7 linked regions of the Homo sapiens genome follow. The protein of the gene in region 5 purifies or fractionates together with the protein of the main gene of each other region. This does not show direct contact. Each region holds a gene or a part of one and is shown on either strand. Other genes may lie near its edges. The genes, in order: SH3BGRL, MMAB, VANGL1, SIRT2, RP9, ZC3H14 and VANGL2.

What was found.
Region 1: the proteins of RP9 (region 5) and SH3BGRL purify together in Homo sapiens (affinity purification with mass spectrometry; one large-scale study listed by BioGRID and IntAct). This does not show direct contact.
Region 2: the proteins of RP9 (region 5) and MMAB fractionate together in Homo sapiens (co-fractionation; one large-scale study listed by BioGRID). This does not show direct contact.
Region 3: the proteins of RP9 (region 5) and VANGL1 purify together in Homo sapiens (affinity purification with mass spectrometry; one large-scale study listed by BioGRID and IntAct). This does not show direct contact.
Region 4: the proteins of RP9 (region 5) and SIRT2 purify together in Homo sapiens (affinity purification with mass spectrometry; one large-scale study listed by BioGRID and IntAct). This does not show direct contact.
Region 6: the proteins of RP9 (region 5) and ZC3H14 purify together in Homo sapiens (affinity purification with mass spectrometry; one large-scale study listed by BioGRID and IntAct). This does not show direct contact.
Region 7: the proteins of RP9 (region 5) and VANGL2 purify together in Homo sapiens (affinity purification with mass spectrometry; one large-scale study listed by BioGRID and IntAct). This does not show direct contact.

What each region holds. Positions count from the first base shown.
Region 1 is NC_000023.11:81,274,557-81,279,486, reverse strand, and holds part of SH3BGRL (adapter SH3BGRL), read right to left. Parts: intron 2,504-4,930; coding exon 2,318-2,503; intron 1,157-2,317; coding exon 1,076-1,156; intron 1-1,075. UniProt on the Homo sapiens protein: Appears to function as an adapter protein that bridges proteins together or proteins with mRNAs. May function as a ubiquitin ligase-substrate adapter.
Region 2 is NC_000012.12:109,556,505-109,560,848, forward strand, and holds part of MMAB (corrinoid adenosyltransferase MMAB precursor), read right to left. Parts: intron 2,652-4,344; coding exon 2,592-2,651; intron 633-2,591; coding exon 524-632; 3' UTR 1-523. UniProt on the Homo sapiens protein: Converts cob(I)alamin to adenosylcobalamin (adenosylcob(III)alamin), a coenzyme for methylmalonyl-CoA mutase, therefore participates in the final step of the vitamin B12 conversion.
Region 3 is NC_000001.11:115,693,361-115,697,166, reverse strand, and holds part of VANGL1 (vang-like protein 1), read right to left. Parts: 3' UTR 1-3,806.
Region 4 is NC_000019.10:38,879,439-38,883,147, forward strand, and holds part of SIRT2 (NAD-dependent protein deacetylase sirtuin-2), read right to left. Parts: intron 2,054-3,709; coding exon 1,994-2,053; intron 1,718-1,993; coding exon 1,662-1,717; intron 1,460-1,661; coding exon 1,383-1,459; intron 1,299-1,382; coding exon 1,247-1,298; intron 736-1,246; coding exon of another isoform or gene 703-735; exon of another isoform or gene 265-702; coding exon 194-264; intron 63-193; coding exon 1-62. UniProt on the Homo sapiens protein: NAD-dependent protein deacetylase, which deacetylates internal lysines on histone and alpha-tubulin as well as many other proteins such as key transcription factors.
Region 5 is NC_000007.14:33,096,312-33,100,295, forward strand, and holds part of RP9 (retinitis pigmentosa 9 protein), read right to left. Parts: intron 3,126-3,984; coding exon 2,996-3,125; intron 1,052-2,995; coding exon 960-1,051; intron 244-959; coding exon 182-243; intron 1-181. UniProt on the Homo sapiens protein: Is thought to be a target protein for the PIM1 kinase. May play some roles in B-cell proliferation in association with PIM1.
Region 6 is NC_000014.9:88,575,610-88,580,539, forward strand, and holds part of ZC3H14 (zinc finger CCCH domain-containing protein 14), read left to right. Parts: intron 1-230; coding exon 231-331; intron 332-2,375; coding exon 2,376-2,531; intron 2,532-4,930. UniProt on the Homo sapiens protein: RNA-binding protein involved in the biogenesis of circular RNAs (circRNAs), which are produced by back-splicing circularization of pre-mRNAs.
Region 7 is NC_000001.11:160,410,111-160,415,040, reverse strand, and holds part of VANGL2 (vang-like protein 2), read right to left. Parts: intron 1-4,930. UniProt on the Homo sapiens protein: Involved in the control of early morphogenesis and patterning of both axial midline structures and the development of neural plate. Plays a role in the regulation of planar cell polarity, particularly in the orientation of stereociliary bundles in the cochlea.

The sequences.
Region 1 (4,930 bases), on a different chromosome or scaffold from region 5:
TGAGTCCTACATGAGCAGTCCACTTCCTTGAGAGGGTCTGTGGGTCCTCTCAGGATTGCTGGTTTGTTCTTGCAGTCTATTTGGGGCTAAAATGCACAATGCAAGCCTCCAGATGCTGCTCTGTCTGGATTGCAGATGCTGCAATCTAGTACTCTATCTTATTTAAAGAAAAGTGCCTTACCTCACTTTTCTTATGGCTCAAATTGTACAAAGCCTAAAATATAAGATTTTATCCATGGGAAAAGAAAGTTCGGCAAGAAAACCATTTTACAATGACATGAACACAGTACTAGTAAATTTTTGTCTAGTGAAAACAGACAATAACACAGCCTTTTAAAATAGGAGAGGGAATTGGAGTTCAAAGAATCTGTCTAACATACAATTAGTTGCTAAGAGCAAAACATAAAATGACAGAGCAAGAGACACGCATTTTGATTAAGGCAGTTTGTGTGAAGAACTACTATAAAAGGCAAAGGTATGTTTAAAGTTGATAGTTTGGGGACATCTCACTAGACAGGCAACTTTATTGTTGCTTTCTTTATTTGGTCTCTCCTGAAAATGCTGCTACTTAAAAAATTAATTTGTGTTGGCAGGAAAAAAGCCTCAAATTTGGCGAGCAATTTAGTGACCAGTTTTGCAATGCAGATGCTCTTAATTAACTTGAATGGATGACTCTATCATTTGCTCTCACACAAAGACAATAAGTGCTGCCAAGGAGATTACCATGAACTAAGATGCTTACTGTCGATGTAGAACCATGCAGGACAGCTGGAATAATGAAGGCTTTAAAATTGCTAAGCACTTATCTGTGCATAGGTCAATGAGAAATTTGCTCCCATGGGCAGCTTGATGGGGAAGTCACTCTACCTACCTGCTAAACACATAGTTTATGCATTTGGTTATGCACATCTTTCTGCCCTAATAGGAATTAAGTGGATGCAGAGAAGGCACTTTTTGCTATAAAGGATTGTCTCTGACTTAATTTGAATACTTAACAAAAATGAAAATCTTACTGATTAAAAAAGTTCAGCAGCAATAAAATGACCTATAAAACAGGAAAAAAAGGGTATCATACCTTTGAACCAGGTGGGGCTGTCAAGCCTAAGAAGGCATACACTGCATTATTTTCTCTGGCTTCAAAGAAGGCATCATAGTCCTTGATGAAAAGAAGATAAGATGAATTAGCAATATGCAACCAATAAAAGAAAAAAAGGAAATTTATTCAGCCGAAAGCAGTGGCTCACGCCTGTAATCCCAACACTTTGGGAGGCCGAGGTGGGCGGATCACCTAAGGTTGGGAGTTTGAGACCAGCCTGACCAACATGGAGAAACCCTGTCTCTACTAAAAATACAAAAATTAGCCAGGGGTGGGGGCACATGCCTGTAATCCCCGCTACTTGGAAGGTTGCGGCAGGAGAATCGCTTGAGCCTGGGAGGCGGAGGTTGCAGTGAGCCAAGATCACCCCACTGCACTCCAGCCTGGGCAACAGGAGGGAAACTCCATCTCAAGAAAAAAAGGAGATTTATTCAGAATGACCTGACTGGTCGACAGAATCATCTACCTCCTTGGGGACAGAGAGACTAACTTCCATAATACTAGAATTCTGGAAGGAATAAGGAGTAATAAAGAGGCAAGGCTTCTGGATCTTATTTAATATAGGTTGAAAAGTATGCTATTCTATGTCACAAAAACTGCAGAATGATTTATTCCACATCACATGGAATTTAACTCTGCCTGCAGCTTCCTCCACCATGCAAAACAGCCACCTATTTCCCAGTAAGAAGATGTTTATTTCTGGTCAGACACTGTTGTTTCCATTCACCATATTTCTGTTCCATTATTCATTTAGGTTGAGATTTTCTCAGAGCCTACAATAGACTAGATATTAGCTAGACATGCCCAAGGCCAGAAGAATAGTTAATCTTTGCTGTGTTTTGAGAAAGGCAATGAGATGTCCATGATGCATGACCAGAAGAGCAACCAAACTGCTAAGAGGTTTCAACCTGGGGAATGCAAGAGAATCTTCACATGACTAAATTTGGTTGGGATTCCTACTGTCATCTTATAAGCCACAACACATTCTCAAAAAGTAACAAATAAACTTTCCTAAATTTGGCTGTGATGCATAATCAATAGCAAACATATTTAGAAAATGTAGCCATTGTCTACATCCAGCCTTTGAGTGGATGGAAAGGACAAATGACTATATGCAAGAGATATGACTATATATATGCAGGCTTGGAGGCAGAGGTGAAAATAATGGATAGATTTGGGGCAATCTATTACAATAAACAAGAATTTAAATTGTTTTCTTACCCCGCGATACTGGCTTTCATTGAAAATCTGAGGTGGCAGGGGGTAACCTGTGGCTGGTCGACTATTTTCAGGTACATTTTCTCTCATCCACTTCCGATTCTCTTCATTGGCTGCAATATCTTTTTCTTCAAATCCTATTTTGTTGGCTTCTAGGAAACCAAGCACATCTTGTTGTTTCTTCTTAATCTAGGACCAAAGGACAAGAAACCGTATTTTCCAAATTCAACAAAAGTCAAATGTTTGTGAGCTGGCAGAAATGAATTCAGACAGAACAAAGATTGTGGTTTCACAGAAGTTATATGATTTTCACTCTTTATTATTGTATTGTTAATAATGCCTCACAAGTATATTGAAGAGCTTTTGGTCCACTGGTCCTTTTATCAAGTTGAATTTCTCTTTTTTTTTTCCATTGAAAATTTTCATTATTTAATGATGTACATGCAAAACTAACTGATGCATATCAATATCTAAAAATGCAGTTAACTCCAAATTATGTGCAGTGAAAAGTTATGTTTTCTGATACTCTACAAGCCTCTCTTAGTTTCAGCCTTTCAAGAAAGTTTTTTCCAAATGATGCGTCTGCTTCCCATCTTAACAAGAATTGTATATGCAATAGAAATGAATCTTTCCTTGACAAAGTGCACAGGCTTCAAGAGTCATTCAAGTCTCAATTTTCAGTGTTCAAAACAGAAACTGAACAAGAATATATTAGCTAATCCTACAAACTATAAAGTTTGCAATATATCTGTACCATTCATTAGCCCTTATCATGTGCTGCTAAGGTATCTTTTATGTGTATTATGTATTAGGTTGGTGCAAAAGTAATTGCAGTTTTGGTCATTACCTTCAATAGCAAAAACTGCAATTACCTTTGCACCAACCTAATATGTTCATCTAGATAACCAGGTGGAGATGGCACATGTATTCTGTCTCCTTATCATAGCTAGAAGAGAGCTTTGAAAACAGTAAAATTAATACTATTCAGTTCAGTTTCTCTTCCGACATGCATTTCTTTTAGAACCTGTATTCACACATCAATGGTAATTAACCCCTATTTAAAACCATAACTTAACATTTCTGAGTTATAGGACCGTAATCAATAAGCAAGTTTCTTCATGGAATCACATTAAAATAAAGACACATGGAGTGTTGTCATCAAAAAATAAAATAAAATAAATCTGTCTGCCAATGAGAATAAAAATGCAAAATAAGAAACTCACAATCAAGTCCCTCTCTGGATTTACACCCCTCCATCTACCCCCACATACATGCATATATGCATAAAAGTTGTGTTTTTGTCTTTCTAAGTTGCTCGTGATTGTGATTAAATAATTTTCTCTCTCATCACATAAACTCGGGAAAATAATTCTCAATTTCTCCCAAAAGAAACGGAAAGTTTTCAATGCTATTTAGATTAGGGTACTGAATGTCCCTCTTTAAAGATCAGTTAGAATCTAGCAAAACTTGCTACAAGGTAATTTTTCTAATGGGAATTCTGTTTTTTAATTGGCTTATAAAATCAAACTTTCATTCCTAAATGTAACATATGCCCTCTTTTGAACTGAGAAAAATCAATGTAAAACTCAATAAATAGGAGTGCCTAGTGGACTAATGCACTTGATGAAAGGTTCCATTAAATCAATGGTTTCAATTTCTGAGGTACAGTAGGTGGGTTCAGTCAATGTCAATTGTGTCAAGTAATTTGTCGATCATTAGCATATTTACAAATTTGAGTAGATATAAAGATGTCCTATTAAGACTGTACTTTCAAGGCTGGGCACGGTGGCTCTCATCTGTAATCCCAGCATTTTGGGAGGCTGAAGCAGGAGGATTGCTTGAGCCCAGGAATTCGAGACTGGCCTGGGCAACGTGTGAAAACCCCATACTTTGAGGGAACTTGCATTCCAACAGATTTTTTTTTTTGAATGAGTGAAGAGACATGCTAAGAATTTTACATACATGACCCTGGCAGAATGTCATCAGTCACATTTGCATGAGCAGAGGACCTTTAAGATAAATTATTTTTTGAGGCTTTTCCTACCTTATTGAATGCTTACTTTGTCGAGAACATGACTCACTGTGCTAAGTTAAAATGGTCGCCAGGCCTGGTATCACTAGGCATGATAGTGTACCTTCACTGAAGTAATTACTCTCCAGCCATCAGTTGGAGAGTAATGACCAAGTATTTCTCCCATGCCCTGAGATTGCCTGATGACAAGTACACATACCTACTAGTGTGTTCTACATCTCCATAAAGCTGAACAGAATTGGCCATAATCACACTTTGCTAATAGGTTCTGCCATGTCAAATATGAACTTTTGTTCAGCTTTGAATCTTCAGGGAAAGTTAAAAAAAAATGTTTCCTAACTTGATCAAATTTTCAAGTCCAAAATTTCACATATTAAGTTTATTTCCAAGAAGGAATCTATTCCTTTAATTTTTTTTTTCCAAGATAGGGTCTTGCTGTTTCACCCAGGCTGGAATGCAGTATCATGAGCTTGCATCACTGCAGCTTCAAACTCCTGCACTCAAGTGGAGATTTCTAATATATAAATAATTATTGCTTTTTTTTTTTCTGAGACAGAGTCTAGCTCTGTCGCCCAGGCTAGAGT
Region 2 (4,344 bases), on a different chromosome or scaffold from region 5:
TCCAAATCTTGTCCGCCTTCCCCTTTACAAATGTGACATTTAAAGCACCTTTGGCACAGGTAAATCACAATTACATTTTCAAGGGCCTCTGGTCCCATTCCAAATCTGTGAACAACCTGAGCTGGCAGTGGGAGGGCTCTCTCTCACACACACACACACACACACACACACACACACACACACACACACGGCTCCAGCCTTTCCAACTTTTATTCCTTTTCCGCACAGCTCCTTCTCATTGCAGCAATCACTTTACCTGTCTTTCCTGCAATGCCAATTCATTCCCACATCCCTCCAAGACCCAGGAGAGCTTGGGGAAGCAGGGTCAGGGACAGAATCCCCAAAGGGTCACAGTCCCTTGAGGAAGGTGGCAAGAGGTGTAGATCAAAGCTGAGCTGGGACAAAAGGCTGCTTTGAGCCTCTCTGGGTGAGCTCTTCAGGAACCAGGACCCCAGAAGGGCAAGCTCCTCTCTCCACGGCCATCGCCATGGAGGGATCCTCCAAGCTCCCACTTTCTGTGATTTCAGAGTCCCTCAGACTCGGCCGATGGGTCATTTTTCATGTATATTTTCTCTTGATTCCCCTCCTTCATGGCTGCATATCTGGCTAGCGTGAAGAGATAGTCACTGAGTCTGGAGGGGCAGAGAGAGAGAAGCAAACAGAATGGTTTGAAATGAGAGATCAACGCTAACTGGGTCTTCCCATATCCGCCTACAAGGAGGAGATATAAATGACGCACTCTGGGCACATTGTGCAGGGAGGGCGGGGGCCCAGCCATCTTGCACTTAATGGATGGCACACGAGGCCAGCTGCTGTGAATGCCAAGGACTCTACTCCAGTGTCAAGGCTGGGGCCATTCCTGCAGGATGAGGCCATTGCCCCGGCCCTACCCCATGGGGCAGATGACTTTGGACTCCTCTCTGAGCCGGTTTTTGCACCTTTGAGTGATCAGGGCTCAGGTGCGTGATCAGTTTGGGTGTTTCCCAAACTACAGTGTGCACAGGCATCACCAGGGGATCTCAGCGACGTGCAGATTCTGACTCAGGAGGGCTGGGCTGGGCTGGGCCCGGGGCTCTGCAGGTCTAGTTCCTGCCCTGGCTGATGCTGACACTGCTGGACTAGGCCCTACTGACATTCTGGATCATTCTGTGTGTTCGGGGCTGTCCTGTGCATCCTGTGCAGTGTAGGATGCTGACAGCACCTTTGGTCTCCACCCACCAGGTGCCAGTGGCACCCCTGCACCCAGTGTGACAACTAGTAATGCCTCCAAACATCGCCAAAGGTACCGGGTGAGAAGCACAGGCTGGAGCACTCTAGAGACCAGAGCCCAGCCCCTTTCCCGCCTCCTCCTTTGAACCAACAGCAATGGTCATCTGTGCATGAGGCCTTCTGCAGGGGCAGCAGTGGAGGGAACTAGAGGACGACGCCACGGGCCCCAGAAGGCGCTTACGCTGTCAGCTCTTCTGCCTTCTGCTGTCCGCACCTTTTGCTGTTTCACTCCCAGCACGAGGCACCACGTTCCTCCCTCTCTCTCTGCCCCAGTCTTGCCCTCAGAGGCCAGCTCCACACCACATCCTCCTGAGTCCTCCCCTGACTCAGGCCCCCTGGGCCCCACGGCTGGCTCTCAGGAAGAGCGAAGGGGAGGTTGTTCAGGGTATTTTACCCCTGGGCCGCATGCTCCTGGAGGGCAGTGGTGTGCCTGTTGCTTGTTGGCTCTGTGAAGCCTCACTGAGGAGATGAAATGGCCTGTCCCGTGCAATGCTATGGGACCGCAGGGTTGCTGCTTTGAAGGTGAAGTAGACCTGCTCCTCACTCCCGGCGAAACCCCCCTCCCAGAAGGAAAGGAGCTGCTCAGGACCCGTCAAAGCGCCATGTCTCTGGGAGGAGTGGCCACAGTCAAGGGCCTGAGGTCACTTTCTAGACACCCAGGACAGCTCCTGGGGTGCAGACCTGCTCCCCCAGCTCTCTACCTGCCCCCAGGCTCTGGCCTTGCCCACACTGATGCCACAGAAGCCAGGGCTGGGGCAGGAACCCGCAGAGCAGGCTTTGGGCCAGGTGTGGCTCCAGCCTCATGGGCCGGCCGCGAGGCAGAGGAAGCCCTCCCTGGGCTAGCCTGGCTCACTGGGGCCTGCATGGGGTCCCCTGAGCGCAGCTTGGCCCGGCTCTCTTGTTGGTTCATGCTGCCGCAGGCCCTCTCGGGGACAGGAAACTGGCTGAGAGAGGGCCTGAAGCCTGGCTCCCTGGTCAGTCACCACCGAGAGGCCTCCCCTGAGCACCCAGCCTCTAAGAACGCCCTTTGCCCCCGCAATGCCACTTTGCACTTAGGTTTTTCTTCCTGGTTTTTACAGCAGCCTCTCCCAATAAGATCTAAATCTTATCGGGACAGGCACAGGGCCCACCTTGTTCACCACTGCCTCCCCTGTGCCCGGCGTGGTGCCTGGCACAGAGCAGATGTTCATAAACACTAAGGGAATGAAGGAGGGGGTGCGGGAATGCTGCCCCACACTGCTTCCCGGACCGCTGCACCGCTGCTACTTCCCACAGATGAGCCTCGGCTTTCAGAGAGGAACCCCCAGGTTCCACGCGAGTACCTGTTTAAGAACTTGGCCACGTTCGCATCGGTCTCTCCCATCTGGACAAGAGGCACCACACTAGAAAGGGAGGAGACACTGAGTCACGTGACATTATGGGGCTCAACAGGCTCTGACCTGGGCCTAAACCTTGAGCAGCATTTCACATCCTGCCACCGCTCAACCTGAACCTGCACAGGCTCGGCCGGCAGTGGAGATGACAAATCCATCACAGGTGGGTTTAAACAGGCCATCGGCCCCCTTTCCACCAGCACATCGCAGGACGGCCTGGCCAAGGAGGGATCAAGGATGGCTGGTGAGTTGAGGGAGCCACCTGGCCTACACCACACCCCAGCCAGCCAGCTTTTGTACCACTGGACCTGGGTCTGGGTGGGGTGAAGTTGGGGTGGTCTGCCTCTAGCCTTCAAAGGAAGTGGGGGCCTGACCCTTAATTCCCAATGGGCTAAACTCTAAGCCCCTTGTACATCATGACTTAGAACAACTTCACAGGGGAGAAAAAGACCCAGGCAGACCAAGCTCCTGATTCCGCAGGATTCTGGATTCCTGGGGTCCATGCCAGTCTATTTGCAGATACATTAGACACTGGACGGCCATCTGCTGGGCACCAGTGTGGTGGCGGGCCCTTGCCGAGCCTTTCCCAGGTATCACCCTGTGGCATACCCCTTGTTGGCAAGCCAGCTACCCAAAGCCCAGCCTCAGGGTTCTCATCCCCACCCAAAGCCATGCACCCGGCTAGCGGCCCAGGAGGGTGTGCACCCAGGCCTGTCACAGAGCTCCAGGCTGTCTCTAGTGGGCACCGCATGCTCAGCGAGGAGCTTCCTCACCCGAGGTGCCCCAGGTGTGTGTCCCCACCTCAGGACAATCTGCACCTTGCCACTGCCATGGCTGCGTAACTCTCTGCTGCATGGAGGACCTATCAGCTGCTCCGCCATGCCTGTTTTCGGGGCCTTTGGGTTGTTTCCAGTTTCTTGCTATTATGAGCACTGCTGATGGATGGCTTTGTACAAATGACAGTTTTTTCTTTTGAAGCCAAAGCTTGTTCTGTTACCTGGGATCTCTAAGGAGCTATCTGGGCCCGAGAGCCTTTCATAAAGAACAAAACCTTAGTGGTGTGGGACCGTGGAAGAGCTCAGGCTTGGCCCAGACAGACGTGGACTCCAATCTGGATTCTGCTATCAACCATGTGGGGGACCGTGACCATGGTGTCATTTCTCTGAGCCACAGCTTCCTGACTCCTGTAAAACAGAGGCCACCACCACCTCTCTCCCAGGGCTATCAACAAGGAGTAAATGAAATTATGAACATAAAGTGCCAGTCCATTGGATCAAAGTAGGGCTTGCTTTCTCTTCTCTGTAAAGCTGGCTGGCAGCCTGGTCTCTGAGTGGTGTAGATAGAGACTTTGCTCATTTTCTTCTAAAGATTCCTTGAAAAGGCTGTCAGTAGCTTTGGAGGAGGTGGTGGCTAGTCTGCTGACAACGTCCACCTGGGCTCCCCACAGCCATGCAGGCCTTTCAGGAGCCTTATGCACCCAGCAGCCAGCAGGGTCCTTTCATGTCTACCCCTGTCCCCAAGATGGCTGAGGCTGAGAACCCAGCAATAACTTCCTGCTGTTCTCAGAATACAGGGCTCACAAACAAGGTGCAATTGTGTTGTCTGATAGTCTATTTGGTCACATGTCACTGTCTCCACTTCACAACATGGTGCTCTGAGGACAGGGACTTGGTCTGTCCTGGTCCCCGTCTGGCACAGTGGA
Region 3 (3,806 bases), on a different chromosome or scaffold from region 5:
CAAGTCCCATCACTAACTCCCTGAGCAACAAGTCTCTGGTCCCCACAGATGAAGCTTTCTTAGGCTGAAGGCTTTTTAGAATTAAACACTCCTAAATGATGAGCAACTTCACAACAAAAGGCCATGTCTACAAGTGAAAGCTCAGATAAAGATAAGCACATACAAAACCAAACAACTGTACATTCAAATAATGCTTCCCAAATACCATTTCAGTGCCAAAAGAAGTGCCAAAGACACTTTTAAGATAAAAGCCTGGGGTTTGTCACCTTTGTCCCCAAAGCTTAAAGTAAGTGTCTTTCTTCCACTATGACAAGGACAAAACGCTGATGTTTGTAAGCTGAGAGAGACATAAATGGTAGAGTCTTGGTGCCATATTGAAAGAAACTTTTCACAGTGCTGCACCTGGCTTTAGGAATCTGCTCTTTTGTTGGAGAGACTAAAACAACCCACTAAAGAGGCTTATTTCATAGACAAAACAAATTGGGTTATCTACGTAGAAACGGAACAGGACCTGGGAAAACGGGACTTATAGAGCCCTGAAATTTAATTTTATTCTGAAGTTTTACATTTCTAATCCATCGCATCTTAATTCCTAATGAGATGTCACATGGAGAGATGTGAGCACCATCTTCCCTTTACTGTCTTCCATTGAAAGCAAACAGCAGGGCAGAAAACTATGGTTTATGCACAACTGAATCAAAACTTACTACATATGGGAACAGAGAAAAATGGTTTTCTGAGTCCTGTTTTACGTCTGCTCTGTCAAAAGTCTTGGGGGCAAGTGTGAGAAAGACGGTGGGATGCAAACTGCTTGCTGAGAACACCTACGTCAAGGAGGCCAGGCCAGGGACTCCGGCTTGAGATCCCCACAGGATGGGGCTGTGGACAGCCCCTCTCACTCCAACCAGGGAAGAAGTTTGGGGCATAATGTTGCCATGGCACCAGAGAGAGGCCAGGTCAAGCCCCTGCCTGCCTCCCTGCACCCAAGGCCCAAGGCACGCATCTTGCCCAAGCCAGCAGAGTGGGAGCAGAAGGTGGGGCCAGGCAAAAGCAAAGGGGGGCTGCCAGAACAACAGCATCCCTGTCTTGCAGCAGGTGTTAACACTGAAAGGCTGGGTTTTCCAGAAGGGATTCTCAAGTTCTTTCCATCAAATATCCTAAGATATTTGCTAGCATAGTGGAGAAGCTTTCCAAGGGACAAGGTGTAAATCCAAAGTGAAAGAAGAGATCCTGCCTCCCAATGAACTCTCACCCCAGGTTCTAGTTCAAGGATGTGTCTCTAGGTCCTTCCTCAACATCCAGAAGTGCCGAATCATTTAGACCATACTTCAAGGTACAGTGGACTGAGGGGTTAGAATCAAACATCTAGTTTGAAATTCTGTTAACCAGACATGAGACCTTGGACAAGCCCCTTCCTCTCTGACCTTCCGTTTTTCACCCGAAAAACCAAGATGACTCCTATCTTGAAAGAATGTGGGGATAACAAGGCTGGGTGGAACACGGACTGTGACATACATTACCTGATAAATGTGTTAGTAGCCTTTCCTTTCTTTGACCAAAACATGTTTTGTCAAAATGTGATCCAAAACTGAATTTTCTGAGCATACACTTGGTTAAAGCTCAATGCAGTTATTTCAACAGTGTCTAAACTATCTCATTTCGCTACTGCACTGAATACCAATCAAGAACGGTGGGCAGAAGAGCAATTCTTATTTTATTTATAATGAAATACGACCACAAGGTTACATAGTAGTAAATTCACAGTAGTGATTTTTTTGTTTTTCAGTAACAAATCCGTAAATCACAAACACTACCCAGAAATACTTAAATCACTTTACAATCGCAGGGTCTCTGCTGCAGGACTATTTAAATAAATATGCTAACATTTCTGTGCTACTGTAAGTAACCTATCACTTTTTAAAAATAAAGCCCAATTTTTAAGTTACCTTAAGAAATATCTAGTAAGGCTTCCAGGGTAGTGAAGTTTGAGCAGTAATTTTCTTAGAGCTTGACCTTTGTTTGTTTGTTTCTTGCTGTTTTCAGAGTCCTAAAGCAAGAAAGAGTTTAATGGACTTGCCTGCAGGACAGCAGGCTCCCCAGAAGACAGTGCTGTGCTAAAGCCATTTACTCTAGCGGGAGAAGCCAGTGTCAGTGAGGGAAAGGAATAAAGCAGGGGAGGGAAAAGTCACTGGTTTAGAGCGACCTCTCAAAACACAGGGTTATTAAGTCATCTCTCAAACACAGGGGACTGCAGAAACACAGACACCCTCACACACTCAGCTATATACACAATGACACGTATCTGCTGAGCTACACACCTGCTACAGATAACACAGATGTTAAGATGTCTGACATATAAATGTGCTATCCGTCTGGTAATACACTCAGAGAAATGCTCACATATATGGAAATAAAAACGCACAAACAAATATGCATCCCCACTTAGGGATACTTACACAGCAGGACCCAGATTGGAAGGTAAACCAAGGACTCACTTTTGTTGGTTTCACTGAGTGGCTGGAGCACTCACTCAGTACGTAGGTTGGAGTGGCAAGGTAATCAATTTCTGTCAGTCCAATATGCTGGTAGCATCCCACAGAGCTACAGCCCTTAGGTAAATACATGCACTCGAAAGTGATTATGAGGCAAAATGAGAGAGAAATCTACCACCAACTACTGTAGAGAGGGCAGGGGTGAGCACTTTATCCCTATCCAACACACACCTGCACAGCTAGTCTCTCCATTAAAAAAGGAGTCCCAAGCCCCAGGCAATGAACTACAACACAGCAAACACACCAGGTCACCTGCCTCTTACCATTTGCTGTAAAGAACTTGTCTTCCATGTAGATGTCAAAAGGCAAGAACAGAGGCGGGGGAAGGGAGGTGATGATAGTTGGGCAAAAATTTGGTGGTCAAGTATTTTCTCTAGGGCTTACTTTATGAATTTTAGCCAAAGTATTACAGATTTGACTTAACATTTTGATAATGCAAAGGATGGATGAACTATATAGCTTTAAAATCCTCTCTGAGAATGCATACAGAACTTTTTAACATTCAGTTCATGGACTATAAAAACTGTCCTATCTTCAAAAGTACATATTTAAGAACAAATTATCTACCAGTTAAAACATCACCAGGGAAGAGAGCAATCTCAGATATAGACTCCTCATTAAGTTCTTTAACACTCAATGCTCTAATTTTAATAACGTAGGATGAAAATTATAAAAAATCTATAAACATATAAGGCAAATGAAATCCTGTCTACTATAATGTGAACATACATTCTACCAGCCTTAGGGCGAAGTTTACCCCCTTTTAAAAAGAATAGCCTACCAGTTCCAAGAATTGAAATAAAAATGCATTGTGTTCAATTGTGGGATGCAGCTTTCTGAAACCTTAAATCTTTTAAATGTCATTTACATTGTTCCCACTGCAAAAGTAACTCAAGCTATAAAGAGGTTGAAAGTGCAAAGGCTTTACAAAGATCCTGCATTTTATTTTGTTATTCTTTCAAAAAGAACTCAATACAAAGTCAATATAAAAAAATCAATACTCAATTTAAAACAGAAACAGTAATTTCTGAATGTCTAACATTCTCCTATGCAAAGACTGGGAGAAAGAGGAAGGGGGAGAGAGAAAATAAATTCTTTAATTTAAACCTTTCTTCACCCTGCTGGGAATGCACATGCCAGAGCAAATGAATCCAGCTTAACCCCTTCTGGACTGGTCATTGAAGATAGGGTTGGAAGAACAGTATTTTAGAATGGTGATGAACAGTGTCATTATTAACTATATGTACATACACT
Region 4 (3,709 bases), on a different chromosome or scaffold from region 5:
ATCCAAGGAGCTCAGCAAGGGCCAGGCAGCCCTGGTCGCATTCACCCAGCCAGGCCACGTCCCTGCGGTGCAGCAGGAGATCAGAGTTCCCAGGCGGGCTCGCCCCTGCCTGCTCCTCTCATCTGCCTTCGTGCCCCCGCTCCCACCTCACCCTGTCCCTTCCAGGCTGCCCCAACCCCCGGCGGGGCCTCACCTGTAGGCCTTCTTGGAGTCAAAGTCCATGCCTCCTCCGAGGCCCATAATCATCCCCAGGAAAGGGTCCGACTGTCAGGGAGGGGGTGGGTCAGGGGCAGGAGCAGGGAAGGGAGAGCTAAGAGCACAGACCCTGGAGCCAGGTGGCCTGGGTTTGTATCCTAGCTCTGTGACTTTGTTTTTTTTTTGTTGTTGTTTTTTTGGTTTTTTTTGAGACAAAGTTTCACTCTTGTTGCCCAGGCTGGAGTGCAATGATGTGATCTCGGCTCACTGCAACCTCCACCTCCTGGGTTCAAGTGATTCTCCCGCCTCAACCTCCCGAGTAGCCTGGATGACAGGTGCCCAGCACCATGCCCGGCTAATTTTGTATTATTAGTAGAGACGGGGTTTCACCATGTTGGTCAGGCTGGTCTCGAACTCCTGACCTCAGGTGATCCACCCGCCTCGGCCTCCCAAAGTGCTGGAATTACAGGCGTGAGCCATTGCGCCCAGCCAGCTCAGTGACTTTGGTCAAGTGACTTGTCCTCTCTGTGTCTTAGTTTCCTGTAGAATAGGGGTGATCACAAAACCGCGATGGGGTTGTGGCGCCAGTGAGTTCACGCAGGCTAAGACTTGGGACAGTGTCTGCCCACAGCGTGCGCTGCTTGCCCGGTGACCCTGCCTACTTCCCCTGAGGGGAACACCTAGGAGGGAGCACCTGCCCTAGAGTGAGGCTGCCCAGGAAAAACAGACCTGAGAGACCCAGAGCGTGGACCCAACCCCGCCCCCCGCACTGTCTCTCCTGACCCCTGCACCCCCTCCCACCTCCTCAGTCCCTGGAAGCCCGGCCTTCCTATCTGGCTTCAGCTGGTTTGAGTTGGAATTCTATCACTTGCTCAAAAGGGCAGTGAATGTCCCAGAGGCCTGGAACCCGACCCCTCTGGATTCTAGAGCCCCAGGTTCTGAGCTGAGGAATGCAAAGTGCTGGGGTTCCACAGTGGGGGTTCCCTCTGAGGAAAAGGGTGAGAGGGAAGGGGGAGCCTGTGACGACGGGGGCTTGAAGAAGGGCTCTTACCTGGCCAGCTTTCTCCTTGTTGATGAGCAGGCGAGGGGTGGAGAGGGGTGCCCTGTGGGGAGGGGGAGCTAAGGGGTCAGGGTCTGTCCTGGCCCTGGGTGCCCAGCCGTCCTCCCAGCCACAGCCCCCAACCTACTTGCTGATGAGGGAGGCAAAGGGCTGCACCTGCAAGGAGGTACCCATGACCAGGAGGAGGTCCACCTTCAGGAAGTCCTGCGGGGAGGGGCGTGAGCTTGGGAGCCTCCGCCCAGGCTGCGCCACCGCTCCCTCCCCCGCCCCCAGCAGCAAACCTCCCTGCCGCCCCCCATAGCTGGGGAGGTGACCTTTCCTGAGGCAGGGCCCAGGCTGCCCCCATGGGGCCCAGCACAGGTGGAGGCGGCGGTTGGGGATGCGGGGAGGCTGGGGGGCCACTTACTGACTGCATACAGGAGAAGAAACGCGCTGGGAGGCTCTCACCAAAAAAGACGATATCTGAGGTGGAGACAGATGGACGGACAGAGACAGTGACATGGGGAGGCAGAGAGGACAGGTGGGAGCAATGGCAGACCCGGAGGCCACAGTGGGAGTTGGGAGCAGTGGGGACCGGCCAGGGGCACAGACCCCATTCTCCCCAGGATGGATCTGGGGCACTGTTCAGAGAGACAGAGGTGGCCAGATGTGTGCGGGTGTGGCCTTTGGGAGGGGGTCAGGGGGAGGAGGGGACCCCCACCCAAATCCACCTGGGCAGGTCCCTGGCCAGAGGCTCACCAGGCTTCACCAGGCTCTGACAGTCTTCACACTTGGGCGTCACCTCAGAGAAGATCTTCTCTGGGTATGGGGAAGGGGAAGAAAGAGAAGGCAGTAAGAGGATCTGGGCCGGAGTCTGGAGGTGCAGCACCCCCACCCCTCTTCCACTGTTAACATGAACACACCTCCATCACTTGGAGTGTGATGGGTGTCTCCTGAGGTGTCCACTCTGCTCAGAAAAGACCTCTCTTCTTGTTGTTGCATTTTTTTTGTTTTTTTCTTTCTTTTTTTTTTTGAGATAAGGTCTCACTCTGTTGCCCGGGCTGGAATGCAGTGGCACGATCATGGCTTACTGTAGCCTCAACCTCCCAGCTTCAAGTGATCCTCCTGCCTCAGCCTCCTGAGTAGCTGGGATTACAGGTGCATGCCAGCACGCCCGGCTAAATTTTGTATTTTTTGTAGAGACAGGGTTTCGCCATGTTGCCCAGGCTGGTCTCAAACTCCTGGGCTCAAGCAAATCTGCCCACTTTGGCTTCTCAAAGAGCTGCAATTACAGGTGTGAGCCACTGCGCCCGGCCTTATTGGTTTGTTTGTTTTTTTGAGACAGGTTCTCACTCTGTTGCCCAGGCTGGAGTGTGGTGGTGCAATCATGGTTGAGTGCAGTGGTGTGATCATAGCTTACTGCACCACCGACTTCCCAGGCTCAAGTGATCCTCCTGCCTTAGCCTCCCGAGTAGCTGGGCTCACAGGCATCCACCATCGCACCTGGCTACATTTTATTTTTTTTAGAGATGGGATCTCCCTATGTTGCCCAGGCTGTTCTCAAACTCCTGGGCTCAAGTGATCCACCCACCTCGACGTCCAAAAGTGTTGGGATTACAGGCATGAGCCACTGTGCCTGGCCTTATTTCTTATTGATTTAGGAAGCTTGAAAGCATTTCTGGCCGGGTGTGGTGGCTCACGCCTGTAATCCCAGCACTTTGGGAGGCTGAGGCGAGTGGATCGTTTGAGGTCAGGAGTTTGAGACCAGCCTGGCCAACGTGGTGAAACCCCGTCTCTACTAAAAATATAAAAATTAGCCAGGGGTTGTAGCACGTGCCTGTAATCCCAGCTACTTGGGAGGCCGAGGCAGGGAGAATTGCTTGAACCCGGGAGGCGGAGGTTGCAGTGAGCCGAGATTGCACCACTGCACTCCAGCCTGGGTGACAGAGCAAGACTCCATCTCAAAAAAAAAAAAAAGAAAGAAAGAAAGCATTTCTGTCACTTGCAACCCACTGAATTCTAAGTCATTTGCTCAACTGTCCATTCATTCATTCAGCACACATTTATAAAGCATTGTTTCAATGTCAGTAGTCGGTAATTTTCTTTAAAATATTTCTGCATGGACAGCATGACACCGTGGGTGCTGCCTGTGACGCTGCTGTCAATGACACATAATGGGGGTAATGTGAATTGTACACTGCCCCCAGCTGCTTGCAGTTGGGCTATTCAGGAATCCTCAGCCCAGGGGCACTCAGCTGGCATTTTATCAGAACAGCCACACTCCAGAGGCCCTTCTGCAAATGCTGCAGCTGTCCTTATCTCACAGGGACACCAGAGGCTTTGTTAAATCAGCATAAAGAATGTCAGAAATGGCTTTCCATGAGTGGAATAAGTGACTTCTTGTTTTTTTTTTTTTTTTTTTTTTGAGACAGAGTTTTGCTCTTGTTGCCCAAGCTGGAGTGCAATGGTGCGAAC
Region 5 (3,984 bases):
GAGGCTGGCCTGCTCATTCCCCAACACTGGCCTTTTCAGCCATGACTCCTGCACTCCACATATTTTCACAATTGAAGTACCATGTTTACTGCACCATTCCTCTAACACTAGAGTGGTTTTCTCCAACTTTATATAATTTTAAAACTTTAAGGGGATATTGTTATCATCAGGACGACCTCACCTTACGTCCTTTTCATGTCGTTTATTGTCTCGTATGATGTCATACATGGGATCTTCATGTGCCTTAAGGGTCAGAGAAGGTTAAGGTTTGGTTAGGCTTCATGGATCACAAGTTAAATACAATGAAATGCCTATGTTATGAAAACCAGTTTATTTTTTTTTTTACTGTTTGATGTAGCTGCATGTTCAACATGTTCTAGGTCACATCACTGAAAACTCATTAAGGCTAAAAAATGGATTTTCCAATTAGAAAAATACAGGAAATGGCTACTCTCAGCACACTGTCTTTGGGGTAGCCCTGCTCTGCAGGAGCAATCACAGAGCTATAACACTGCCACCTCAAAAACAAAGAAAAATACAGGGAATAACTGTCATCTAAAGAAAAAATATACGGACACTTTAATCTTACAGTTTAAAGACATGTACTCTTTAAAGACCGGGAAATTAAATCCCTGATTTCAGTCATGAAACATGACTTTTTTACACAGTAAATTTTAAAAAGTGCGGTTGAATAGATAACAATGTCTGTTTCAGAAAAAAAATCACTGTTCCAAGTTACAAACAAAGATCACTTTAATAAGAATTCCTTTTTTTTGTAAAAGAGCTAATTTGTCATACAAATGTAATTTAATAAGCATGTAGTTAACAGCACACACTTTGGTCAAAGGGCTTCTGGGAATGTATTTTATGTGACCATTCAAGTTCACTGGTGACTTTCTGCTTCACTGATTTTCACTATCTCTGATAAATGTAAATTGACACTCTTGGACTTTACTTACCACTCTGAACTGCTCTAACTTTTGGTTGCCTTTGATAAAGAAAGGGCATTCTTTGTCACCCGTTCGGTGACCATAGCGTTTGCAACGCCAACCTAAAAACGAAAAGAGAAATATTTCTGTAAGATAACAGTTTCACCTACTCAAGATAAAGAATCAGCAGAATATATTCAAGTTTTTCTTCATTAAACTCTAATTCTAAAACAAAATATAATTATGGACAAGCCATGTAAGATCCCAGAAACAGAGGTAAACTAATTGCTTCCCCAAGCATCCTTTAGTCTTATACCTTTAGGAATAATATTCTATCACCAAGTATTTATGAAGCAATCCAATGGAGAATTACTTCAAAAGGTGAATTTTTTTTTTTGAGATGGAGTCCTGCTCTGTCGCTCAGGCTGGAGTGCAGTGGCGTGATCTCAGCTCACTGCAACCTCTGCCTCCTGGGTTCAAGATATTCTTCTATTTCAGCCTCCTGGGTAGCTGGGATTACAGGTGCGTACCACCACACCCAGCTAATTTTTGTATTTTTAGCAGAGATGGGGTTTTGCCATGTTGCCCAGGCTGGTCTTCAACTCCTGACCTCAGGTGATCCGCCCGCCTCAGCCTCCCAAAGTGCTGGGATTACAGGCGTGAGCCACCACGCCCGGCCCAAAAGGTACATTTTTTTTAAAGTGTGTTTCAGTATATTTTTCAGAGTAAATGTTTTCATAAAGTATCTCTGCTTCTCATTTACTATTTTAGACACTATAAAAGCTTCTTTCTCAGGTTGAGTCTGTTCAAAACTCTCACTTTTAAGTAAATAAAATCACAAGTTCTCTTAGAATATTAATGGTGGCTGGGCACAGTGGCTCCTACCTGTAATCCTAGCACTTTGGGAGGCAGAGGCGGGTAGATCGCTTGAGGCCAGGAGTTCGAGACTAGCTTAGGCAACATGGTGAAACCCTATCTCTACAAAAGTACAAAAAAATTAGCTAAGCCTGGTGGCGCATGCCTGTAGTCCCAGCTATCTCAGAGGCTGATGTGAGATCACCTGATTCTGGGAGGTTGAGGCTGCAGTAAGTTGTGATCACACCACTGCACTCCAGCCCGGGTGACAGAGTGAGACCCTGTTTTCCTGACCCTGGTAGAAGGTTGTTTAATGTGTGGAAAAGGTAAAACAGAGGGTCTCTGGCCAGGGAGACCAGGGAGACATCAGGTAGGTCTGAAGGAAGCTGCTGCAATAGCCACAAAGGGTCACACGAATGAATGAAAAGCAGATGGACACATTTCCAGACTCCCTCCACTCGGCTCCCAGAACACTCATAGTATGGCTTTCCCTCCACGTGGGAGCCTTCTCTGGGAAAATATAACCCACCCAAAGAAGAAAAACCGATAGATACTGAACTCTGAGGCACGTTGTCTTTGCTTTTAACAAATAATCAAGGCAATGAAGCATTCCCATCAAAATTCTCAAGGAAACTGATTTTTAAATTAGAATTCAATATCCTGGTAGTTAAAAATCTGTTAAAGACGATTCCAGAAAAGTAAAGGTCTTAACATTTTTATCTTCTATAAACCCATTTTGAAGGTAACAGCCATAGGATTTGTTACACCATAAGGAGAGAATATGATAATAAAGAAGACTCAAGACACAGGAAAATGGGTGATCCAACACGGGAGAGAGGCTAAGGGGACCTGCAGAAAGATGGTGTCTTAGTCAGCTCGGGCTGACATAACAAAATGCCGTATTCTGGGTGGCCTAAACAACAGAAACTGGTTTTCTCATTCATTCTGTAGGTTGGAAATCTGAGATCAGGGTCCCAGCAAGGTGGGTTTGTGGTGAGAGCTTTCTTCCTGGCTTAAGATGACAGCCCTCTTTCTTCTTCACATGGCACGGTGGTGGGGGGTGGGGTGGATGCTTCCTTATCTAGAAGATGGAGAACGTGCCTTGGCTGTAAGAGGGCTGTGATGAGAACAAGTTAAATAAAAGAAGTAAACACTCTTTGTAAATTGAGGCATGTAAGTTGCATGGATTAGGGAAACTCTCCCACACTCACACTGCATAACTTTGACTTCTTTCCCCAGTGGCATCCAAAGTCCTTTAGTTGGTGCATGAGCCAGAAATTCCCTGGCGTGTTCATTGCCTGGTACATCTGGTATGCAATCTTCTGGCTTAGTCTCATCTTCCTAAAAAAGGGAACAGGTATAAACAGCATGGCAAGAGCGCTGGGATTCTCTCCTGCTCCCCTTGGAGCCACCCTTGCCTGGCTTTTTCCTGGGCTTCCGGTGCCAACATCATCTTAGTTACCCCTCAAAACTAGAAAAAAAGACAAGTTACACCTGATTGAAAAAACAGGAAACAAATGTACCAGAAGAACTATACCAAAAACAATGTAGCTGTTCTTAGAGAAAAGTTACTGGTGAAGCAGAAAAATCTGTCCTTATATAGCAATGACTGGGGAGCTCCAAATAAGATTCTGAGATTAAAAAAAAAAAGTTTCACTACCTCAAAATATAGAATTAAAGTAAACCAGGCTTCCTGGAATAATAGAAATGGCCTGTTATGCTAGAATAGTTTATTATACCCTGAAGGCCCTGTCATGTTTTACAGTCACACACATGCTATATCTCTGATGTACATTTTTACCACTCAATAACTGCATTTACAATTAATGTGTTTTCAAACTTTTGGATTTTTTTCAAGTTTCTATGAATATTAAATTTACAATAGACTCATGTTTTTAAAGAATATTTCTTCGCTGAGAGTTATGAAACAGCAAGTTTTCTTGGCCGTGGCCTGCCACTCTAAGTCTCCCTCGTGCACACACACCCTGGCACCTTGGCCAGGGAGCTGCAGGAGGGATGCCTGTACCAGGGAGCGGGACTGGATAGCTGTCAGATCTCCTCAGAGTTTACTGCTCTCTGAGCTGCTGAGCTCAAGAAACCAGCAGAGGATGGACCGAGGGGCTGAGCCGGGTGAGGCCGACAAGGAAAAGGAGCTTAGAGATGCCATCCCCAGCAAGAGAGAAGAGGGGCATGGCCAAGG
Region 6 (4,930 bases), on a different chromosome or scaffold from region 5:
CTTGAGCCTAGAAGTTTAAGGCTGCAGTGACATCACACTCCATCCTGGGTGAGAGAGTAAGAGTCTGTCTAAAAAAAAAAATAAGGTTCCAGTGTAGTTGGCATTTTCTAAAAACTGCAGCTAGTCTGTTTAAAACCTAGAGAAGGTTGTGGTAAAGGCATAATAGATGGCTGGCCTGTGAGGAACTGAAATTTAAAGTTTAATAAAAATACCTTTCTTAACTCTTTTAGACCTTCTCTTCCACCTTCTAAACAAGCTAACAAGAATCTGATTTTGAAGGCTATATCTGAAGCTCAAGAATCCGTAACAAAAACAACTAACTACTCTACAGGTAATTTAAATGTATTATGTTTACACTTGGTAAGACATTTCTGTAATTCTTGAGTAAGGTGAAAATGATTGCTCCTTAAATTGTAAAATAAAGGTGCCTGTCAGATGTCAAGACCAAGATGAGGTTCCCATATAGAAAAATGGCTTTAAAAGGAAATTGACAAGTTTGAGAAACTTCGCCAACTGTTATTGGACTGTAGTTTTTCAAGCACCATATAATGCCTTTTATATCTTTCCAATGTGTGTAAAATATATAGTACGTAAATATTTTGAAGAGAATTTTGATGAAGTAGGACTTTCATATTAGTAGCATTAGATTCAACATTAGATATGAATTTACGATGTGTAAAGGGGAGTACAATTGGACAATGATAGGTATCTGAAGTTATAGAAATTTGTTAAACAGTAGTATATAAACAAGGTTGGTTTCTTCCCTTTTGGCGGAACTCATTAGTAGAATATAAGGCAGAGAATTGACTCATTTGTGATGTTCCTGCTCCAATTCTAGTGGAAGTACTGAATAATTTTATGAGAGAATATAAAAGTATTACGTTTTCAAAACAGGAGATGAATCAGCTGTAAGCTGGTCTTACGGAAAGCTGATTCTGAAATGCAAACAACTGATGGGTGTCATTTTGTGTTGTCAAATTCTGTACTCTCTGGCCGACCTGTTGTAGCCAATGTGTAAACTTGTGTTAAGAAGCTGATGGTAATGAGCTACTCTAAAAAGATTTAAGTTTTGCTGTGGATTTGGTGGGTGTACTTACAGCATTGCCCTGCTTATCCACTCTCTCGCTTTTTTTTGTGACCCCCCTTCCTAAAATGAGGTAAACTGTAGCCATCAGTTTTTTTATTTGTTTTCTTTTTTTGAGGCGAAGTCTTGCTCTGTTGCCCAGGCTGGAGTGCAGTGGTGTGATCTTGGCTTACTGCAATCTCTGCCTCCTGGGTCCAAGCGATTCTCCTGCCTCAGCCTCCCAAGTAGCTGGGATTACAGGCGCCCACTACCATGCCAGGCTAATTTTTTTGTATTTTTAGTAGAGGCGGGGTTCCACCATGTTGGCCAGGCTGGTCTCGTACTCCTGACCTCAGGTGATCACCTGCCTCCTCGGCCTCCCAAAATGCTGGGATTACAAGCGTGAGCCACCGCGCCTGGCACCATCAGTTTTTGATCCTGATACTTGTCTGTCCTCTTGGTTCTCCTCATCCCTAATTTAACCTTGAACACAAAATTCAACAGGTTTTGGCATATAGAATAAAGATTATCAGGCAAAGGCGCACTCTTGACCTAATGATATATCTACATTTCATTTCCTGATCTATCAGCAATATTAATTGTCTAGAATGATGAGAAGTTTAGAGAAGTTCCATGACTTTGAAATTTTCTTTCTTTACCTAGGTTATCTAAATTACAATTTGAAACTCATATAAGATCATGAAGCTAAGCTTAAATAAACCGCATTTTGTTGAAAATGAATACATATGTACTATATTGTATTCATGGTATGTGGTTGTATGGATATTGTTTACATATGTTTGGATAAATAGGTTCAGGTATCTATCTCAGTAACGTAAGAAAAAATGAATGGTATCTATGGATTGAACTCCTCATATATATGTTCTTTTCTTTTCTTTTTCTTTTTTTTTTGGAGACAGAGTCTCACTCTGTTGCCCAGGCTGGAGTGCACAGTGGTGCAATCTCGGCTCACTGCAACCTCCGCCTTCCGGGTTTAAGCAATTCTCCTGCCTCAGCCTCCTGAGTAGTTGGGATTACAGGTGTGTGCCACTATGCCCGGCTAGTGTTTGTATTTTTAGTAGAAACGAGGTTTTACCATGTTGGCCAGGCTGGTCTCAAACTCCTGACCTCAAGTGATCCACCCACCTTGCCTCCCAAAGTGCTGAGATTACAGGCATGAGCCACTGCGCCCAGCCTGAACTCATATGTCCTAAACCAAAGGAGGCATTTATATTTAATATGACATAGTCACTGTGGAGTTTTGACGTATTACTGCATTTGTATTTCTATCTTTTTTGCTTTTATGTGAAAGTTCCACAGAAACAGACACTTCCAGTTGCTCCCAGAACTCGAACTTCTCAAGAAGAATTGCTAGCAGAAGTGGTCCAGGGACAAAGTAGGACCCCCAGAATAAGTCCCCCCATTAAAGAAGAGGAAACAAAAGGAGATTCTGTAGAAAAAAATCAAGGTAATAACTTAAATGATGTTTCACTCTTTACTACAGTTTTTTCATGAGGCATTGAATATTTTCCAATGGATTTTTATGAAATATTACACTATGAAAAAAGTGATGATTAAGCCCAGAAATAGAATGAGAAGAATACCATGAGGAAGGTTCATACCAACACTTCAGAAAAAAATTTTTTTTTTAAAGAGGTAGGGTCTTGCTGTGTTGCCCAGGCAGTCCTCAAACTCCTGGGCTCAAGCAGTCCTCCTGCCTCAGCATCCTTAGTAGCTGGAGGTGTGTACAAGTGTGTGCCACTGCACCCAGCCCTTTCTAGAAATTTTTGAAAGTCTTTTTATTGTGGAAATTTTTAATATTCTCAAAAATGGAAAGGCTAGTACAGTGAACTCTCATGAACCCAGTCATTAAGCCTTAGTTATTATCAGAATTTTGCTGGTCTTTAGATAGCTCCTTCTTAAAGATATATTTATTTCTGCATTCTTTCTTTTTCTCTTTTTGTTGATCCTGCCCGTTTACCTGAACTTGAAATTTTAGTTACCTTTAAATCTCCCGTCTCTTAAGCATCCTGTCTCTGACCTCCCATATGTGTCCCAGCAACCCTAATTTATCCCCTCGTGCCTAACATACTTCAGTTTGCTTCCAGGTTTTTTTTTTTTTTTTTTTTTTTTGCTTTTTTCTCAGCTTTCTCCCCCAATTCCTATACAATCTTTTGACTTTGAAAGTGTGTCTCTCATCTTCTGACTCCTTTGTGAAAGTATCTCTCCCCTCCTCCTCATTACCCAGAACTAACGCTATTAGTTTGGACTTTTGGTGTCTGTTATCTGACCCCTGGGCCTGCACAGCCCTTCTCCATGACTCTTCAGACCTTTTGTCTCTTTTGTCGTCAAGAAGGATTCTTTTTTCTTCTGTTTCTTTTTCTACTAAGATTTGAATTTTAAGACCCCACCAAAAAAATCTATATGCTTATTATGTTATTTCTCACATACTTTTCAAGAACCTTGGAATATATTTTTTCATTTCTTCAAAACTGTCCTTTAAATTGTTCCAGGTTTCATGAAACCTTATGATTTCAGAATTGTCAATTCTGTATTTGTTTCCTCATTGTGTCTCTTTAAAAATTTTTGACTGTATTGTTCAGTTTGCCATGACAGCGTTATATACTATTCTGATAATTGATAGGCCTGAGGACAAGACCTGTTTGGTCCCCAAACAGCAGATAGGTACCAATTGGAAAATGTGAATGGGCCAAATTGAGAAGAGGAGCTGAAACTGAGGAGGGATTTTGCTCAGTGCAGTGGCAGATGAGGCTGATCTAAAAGGACTGCAGTGGTCTACTCCCTGTGGAGTCTGTAGTGTGTTGCACCAAGGTTTTCTTCAAACACAGGACTCTACGTGAGAGTCTTGGAGTGGAATCAGATGGAGCAGGGAAACAGACAATAGAGAAAAGGAAAGAATGTCAGATAAAAATAGGAGAGGAAAACAATAGGAAATCTCAAAGCAAGGTGCCATATTTTTTAACATCACAAAATCAACAGAAGAAGGTTGTTGATTCTGAAGTTAGAATAGCTATCCAAAGCAAACTTTCCCCTAAAATGAACAACAGAAAAGTATCAAGGTCAAGTCCTGTGCCGAATTAAAAGATAAAAGGGAATAAAAGACAAAACAGCATTGTTTCAATGAAAGCATGCTGAAAGGTATACCAAAAAGAAATACAATTTCAAAGTGAGCTAGAAGACATTATTTAAATAATACAAGACAAAGCCAAGAAAAACATAAAACAGAAGAACTTTGAGGCTGGGTGCAGTGGCTCATGCCTGTAATCCCAACACTTTGGGAGGCTGAGGCAGGAGGATCACTTGAGACTAGCCTGGGCAGCATAGCAAAACCCTGTCTCGACAAAAAATAAAAATATTAGCTGGGCAAGGTATACACCTGTAGTCCTGTCTCCTTGGGAGGCTGAAGTGGGAGGATTGCTGGAGCCCGGGAGGCTGAGGTGGGAGGATTGCTGGAGCCCAGGAGGCTGAGGTTGCAGTGAGCCACGATCATACCATTGCCCTCCAGGGAGGCTGAGGTGGGAGGATTGCTGGAGCCCAGGAGGCTGAGGTTGCAGTGAGCCATGATCATGCCATTGCCATCTAGTTTGGGCGATAGAGTGAGACTGTGTCTCAAAATAAATGAAGACTAAATTAGAAAGAACTCGAAAGAATTAGTGCGTCTTAATAAAATAAAACATGCGTGTAATCCCAGCAATTTGGGAGGCCAAGGCGGGAGGATCACTTGAGGCCAGGAGTTGAAGATCAGCCAGGGCAACATAGCAAAACCTTATGGCTACAGAAAACAGCAATTTAAAAATAAATAAAATTAAAACATCTTCAGAGAAATTGAAGATAAAAGACAAGAAC
Region 7 (4,930 bases), on a different chromosome or scaffold from region 5:
AGGTGAGGGTGAGGGGTGGAAACTATGGATAATATGGTAGGGGATGGGAGGAGAAGACAAGTTTCTACTTGCCTGAAGTTCTGAAACAGGCAAGGCACAAGTTTATCTGCCTATTTATAGGCTTATCTTCAACCATACTTCACCTTCTGATTCTGCAGAGGAGAATGACCTCTCCTCTCTCTAACCCCCACCCAAATCCTGCTCATTCTTCAGAGCCCGGCCCCACCCCCTCATAGGAGCCCCCACCTACTCTAGACCCAATGTTATCTTCCCTGCTGACCCTGACTCCCCTAACAGCCATCACCATCCACCGAGCGCTTACTTCCTATCTTCAGTCATTGACGCATCAAATCTTGTTTGAGCACCTTCTATGAACCATGTATTCTGCTAGGTATAAAGTGGTATAACAGACCCTGAGTTTACAGTCTAGCAGGGAAGGGGCACACCAAACAAGTAAGCAGATAAGTATAAACGACCGATTGCAGGCATGATGGAAGGGCAGAACAGCAAACTATGAGAGACACCCATGGAGTAAGGGCTACCACTTTAAACTTAGCGGTTCTAGAAAGTCTGAGAAAAGGACACCTCAGCAGAGGCCTGAAGAAGAAATAGGAATTAACCAAGCAAAGAGTGCAGGAAAATGCCCATGGAGCAGAGGAATCACATGTGTGAAGGCCAAAGGCAGGAAAGAGCTTGTTGTATTTAAAGAACCAACAAAGGCCAGTGGAGCTAGAGTTGAGGAAGAGAGTGGGTGGTAGAAGGTGGCACTGCAGAGACAGCCAGGCACCAGGTGAAGAGCTTGAGCTTTATTTTATTCTAAGGCCACAGGAAAACTTTGAAGGATTTTAGCTATGCAGATATGGATTGAAAAGAGGGAAAAATAGAAACAGGGAGATCAATAAGGAGGCGACTGCAGTAGTACAGGCTTGCTAAGGGTAGAGCCACAGAAGAGTGAGTAACAGTCATGTTTGAGACTTAATGTTGGTGGTCAAATCAACAGGACCTAATGAGCGGGAAGGGAGAGTTAAGAATCCCCGGCCTGAGCAAGGGAGCAGATGGTAGCACCATCAGTAGGGTAGGGAAGACTGGGGAGGAAGCAGCCTTGTGAGGGAAGATAATTAGTTCAGCTTCTAGCCTGCTAAGTTAGTGGCCATGAGACAGTAGGCAGCCAGGTGTCAGACGAGCCAGACTTGGAGGACAGTCTGAGCTGGAGGTACTGAGTGTGTGAAAAGCTATGGGGATAGATAGAACTCAGATCCAGCTGAGTTCAAAACCTAACTCTTCCATGGACATAAAGGACCCCAATAGGTAGACATGTCCAGAGGAAAAGGAGCAGGCAAAGGGGATGAGAAGGCCAGAGGAGGAGGGGAGCCAGAAGAGTGGGGTCTCAAGGCAGCCAGAAATTTAACAGTGTTTTGAGGTGGGAATTAAGTCAACCAGGTCAAATGCTGCTGAGAGGCTGATTATGTTAAAAACTAAAATGGGGCCGGGTAATCCCAGCCTGTAATCCCAGCACTTTAGGAGGCCAAGGCGGGTGGATCACGAGGTCAGGAGTTCAAGACCAGCCTGGCCAAGATGATGAAACCCCGTCTCTACTAAAAAGCATGGTGGCAGGTGCCTGTAATCCCAGCTACTTAGGAGGCTGAGGCAGAGAACTGCTTGAACCTGGGAGGTGGAGGTTGCAGTGAGCCGAGATCATGCCACTACACTCCAGCCTGGGCGACAGAACGAGACTCCGTCTCAAAAAAAAAAAAAACCTAAAATGGATTTGCTTTGTATCATTACCTTTACTCCAACTACTCTAAACCATCAGTAATTTGAGAATAAGCAATATGATTGATACATATTTATATCCATCTCGCCTCCCATGGGCACAGAGCAAGGAACTGATACCAACCTAGTAAATGAACATAGTCATGCCTCGCTTAACCACAGGGATACTTTCTGAGAAATGTGTCATTAGGCAGCTGCATCCTGGGAACATCATAGAATGTACCTACACAAACCTTGACGGTATAGCCTACTACACACATAGGCCTTATGGTATAGCCTATTGCTCCCAGGCTACAAACCTGTACAGCATGTTACTGTACTGAACACTGTAGCCAACTGTAACACAATGGTAAGTACTTGTGTACCTAAACATAGAAAAAGTACAGTAAAAATACAATAGTATAATTTTATGGGACCACCATCATATATGTGGTCCATCGTTGACCAAAACATCCATGACTGTATGCCTCTCTGGCTCTCAGGGAAACTATAATGACTGTAGGGAGATGAAAGCATGTGAAATCTATTCATTCATCTTCTTAACAGAGTTCAATGGAGGCAATCCTCCATAGGATTAGTTATATTTGTCAGTATCCCCATGTCAAAGCACGTGCGTGATAAGGACACACTTAGAGGACAGGGACATAATACCTTAACCCAACCATAAGCCTTTCCAAAAAACTTTGCAGCAAAAATGACCCTTATTTATCCCCCTACCTGAAAAATATATGTTGGGCTCATCTACCCACTCTCCTGAGGACCCATTCTACTGGCCTACTCCTCCTTATAGTTTAGACATCTGACCTGCATTTCTCTTGTGGTTCCAGCCTATTCTTTCTAGTCTTCTTCATAAAAACTGAATTTTGCTAGGAGGCTCAAAGGCAACGAGTGGGTCACAGAGTGACATGGGGGTAGAGAAGGGGGTGGAGAAGTAAACAACTGCCACGGACTAGAGTCTAGACACACACACTAGATCCCAGGCTGTCCATCTCCTCATCCTCCTGTATACCCATCATCTGCCAAAGCCAACAGCCAGAAGAGCCAGAGATGTGCACTCAAAGATCTGAGTTCAAAACCTAACTCTTCCACTGACTAGCTGTGTGACTATGTGCAAGTTACTTAACACCTCTGTGCTTGTAGCCTGGTAAGCTCATTAGTAAAATAGTGAAGACAATGATGCCTTTTCATGGGGTAGCCGTAAGGATCACGAGGGTGAAAGAAGTGCTTTTATAAATGGTTCAGCTAGTAATTAGTTAAGCAATTAACAAGTTTTAGCTCCAGGATCACTCATACTCCAATCCTCAGACACTTCCTCTGAGACTAGGGAAAGAGGTGGTATAAATAAACCCTGCTGTTAGTACAACTAAATAAAGAAGTCTCACACATACACACACACACACACACCAACCAGAACCACCACTTCAAACACACCCAGAAGGTAAACTGATGCCATTTCATTTCCCCTACAGATAAATTTCAAACCAGACAAGGGTACCAGTCCCCTTTTGTTCTGAGCTGCCCAGCCTAGTGCCCCCTATCTTCCTCCCCTGCTACTTACTAAAGACTCAACATGAATCCTGCTCCCCTGGCCTGCCAACCCAAGTCAGAGTGCCCAAAAAGCACCAAAACACGCTTGTCTCCTCCCTACCAAACACAGGTGCCAAAAATGAACCCGACTTCTGAGACCCTTGCCTGCTGTGTCTTCAAGTACACCAGGGAACTAATCCAAGCACTGCTGCTGGGGGGCCTGGGAGGAGGGAGGAGAGGGGAGTAAAGAGAAGGGCAGAAGTTCCCCTTATTTAATCAGTCTCAGGGATCAGGGGTTTGGAGGGTCCCCTGGGTGGGCAGCGTTCCCAGGGAAGAGATGGGGGGAGGGGATGGCTGGATGAGATCAACAAGTGGAAACGTCAAGAGGGATGACGAGACAGGGAGGGAAGTCCGGACTTGGTGCAGGACAGGGAGCTGCCCTAGTCTGGGGAAGGGGGAGGCTATAGAAAAGGAATGTGCCCCACTGCCTTTCACCTTGCCCCCCACTTCCCAAGACACAAACACACACACTCAGTCCCCTGCTCAAACCAACCATGGATTATCTGGGGTTAAAATGAGGCCAGGGAGGAGAGAGGGAGAGAAGAGAGAGCCTGTTACAAAAAGGAGACCCTTCTCCCCTCCAAAGGCCTTTCAGAAATAAAATTAATGGAATGTGTCTCAGTATCATCCCAAGGGGATTGGGGGGGAGCTTGGCAGGGGGGAATGTGGGGGCTTTTGTCCCTGCTGCCCAGCTTCTCCCACATTGATCACCATGGCAACAAAAGCCCCCTGTTGCCTAGGTGATGGCAGCCGGGTCCTGGAACCCATACCCAGCATCCAAAGGGAGGGAGGTTATGGAGGTGGGGGCAATAGGGACAGAGGAGGAGAGAATGGGGTTTCTCCTCTGGCGGCCCCAGCTTTTGTCTGAGCTCTGGGATCAGGTTTCTTCAGGAAACAATTGGAGGCCTCTGGAAAAAATACACTCAGAACCTGGCAACAGGCAGAGGGAGCAGGGCCCTAGAGTAGTGCGTGCGTGCGTGCGTGTGTGTGTGTGTGTGTGTGTGTATAAGGGGGGTGGGTGTTGGCCAAAACACAGACCAGGGCGGACCAACCCTTTCCCATTTCCCACTCAAAGGAGGCGGCTCAAGTGGGCAAGGCGTTGAACACAAACGCCAGCACCCCCATGTGTGGCGCGTGCTGGGGGCCGATGACCAGACGCAGGCAGCTCCAGACGCCACCTCCTGCCACTGCTCTAGCCCGGGCCCACCCCGCAGCCCAGTCCCGGCTACTTTAGGCCTGGGGTGAGGTAATGAGACAGAGCATAGATGCAGACGGGGCTGGGAGAAAGAGCTGTGGAAACCAGGGTGAGTAGGCCACGGAAGAAAAGGGGGGCAGGGACAGAGCAAAACATGTACCTAAAAAGGGCACCTAGTGTTCCTCATCTCCACCGAGGACAGGGCTGGAAGCAGCTGAGAAGGGTGCTTGGGTTTGATTTTTAAAAGACTTCCAGCCAGACGGGAAGACGATGGGAAAGAGGACAAGAAGCCTCAAGTTCTCCTCAGACAGGGGCAGAGATCTCTGATAGGACCATTTTTCTCTCCGTAGTCAGGGACTAGGGAAGGGTGGTTCT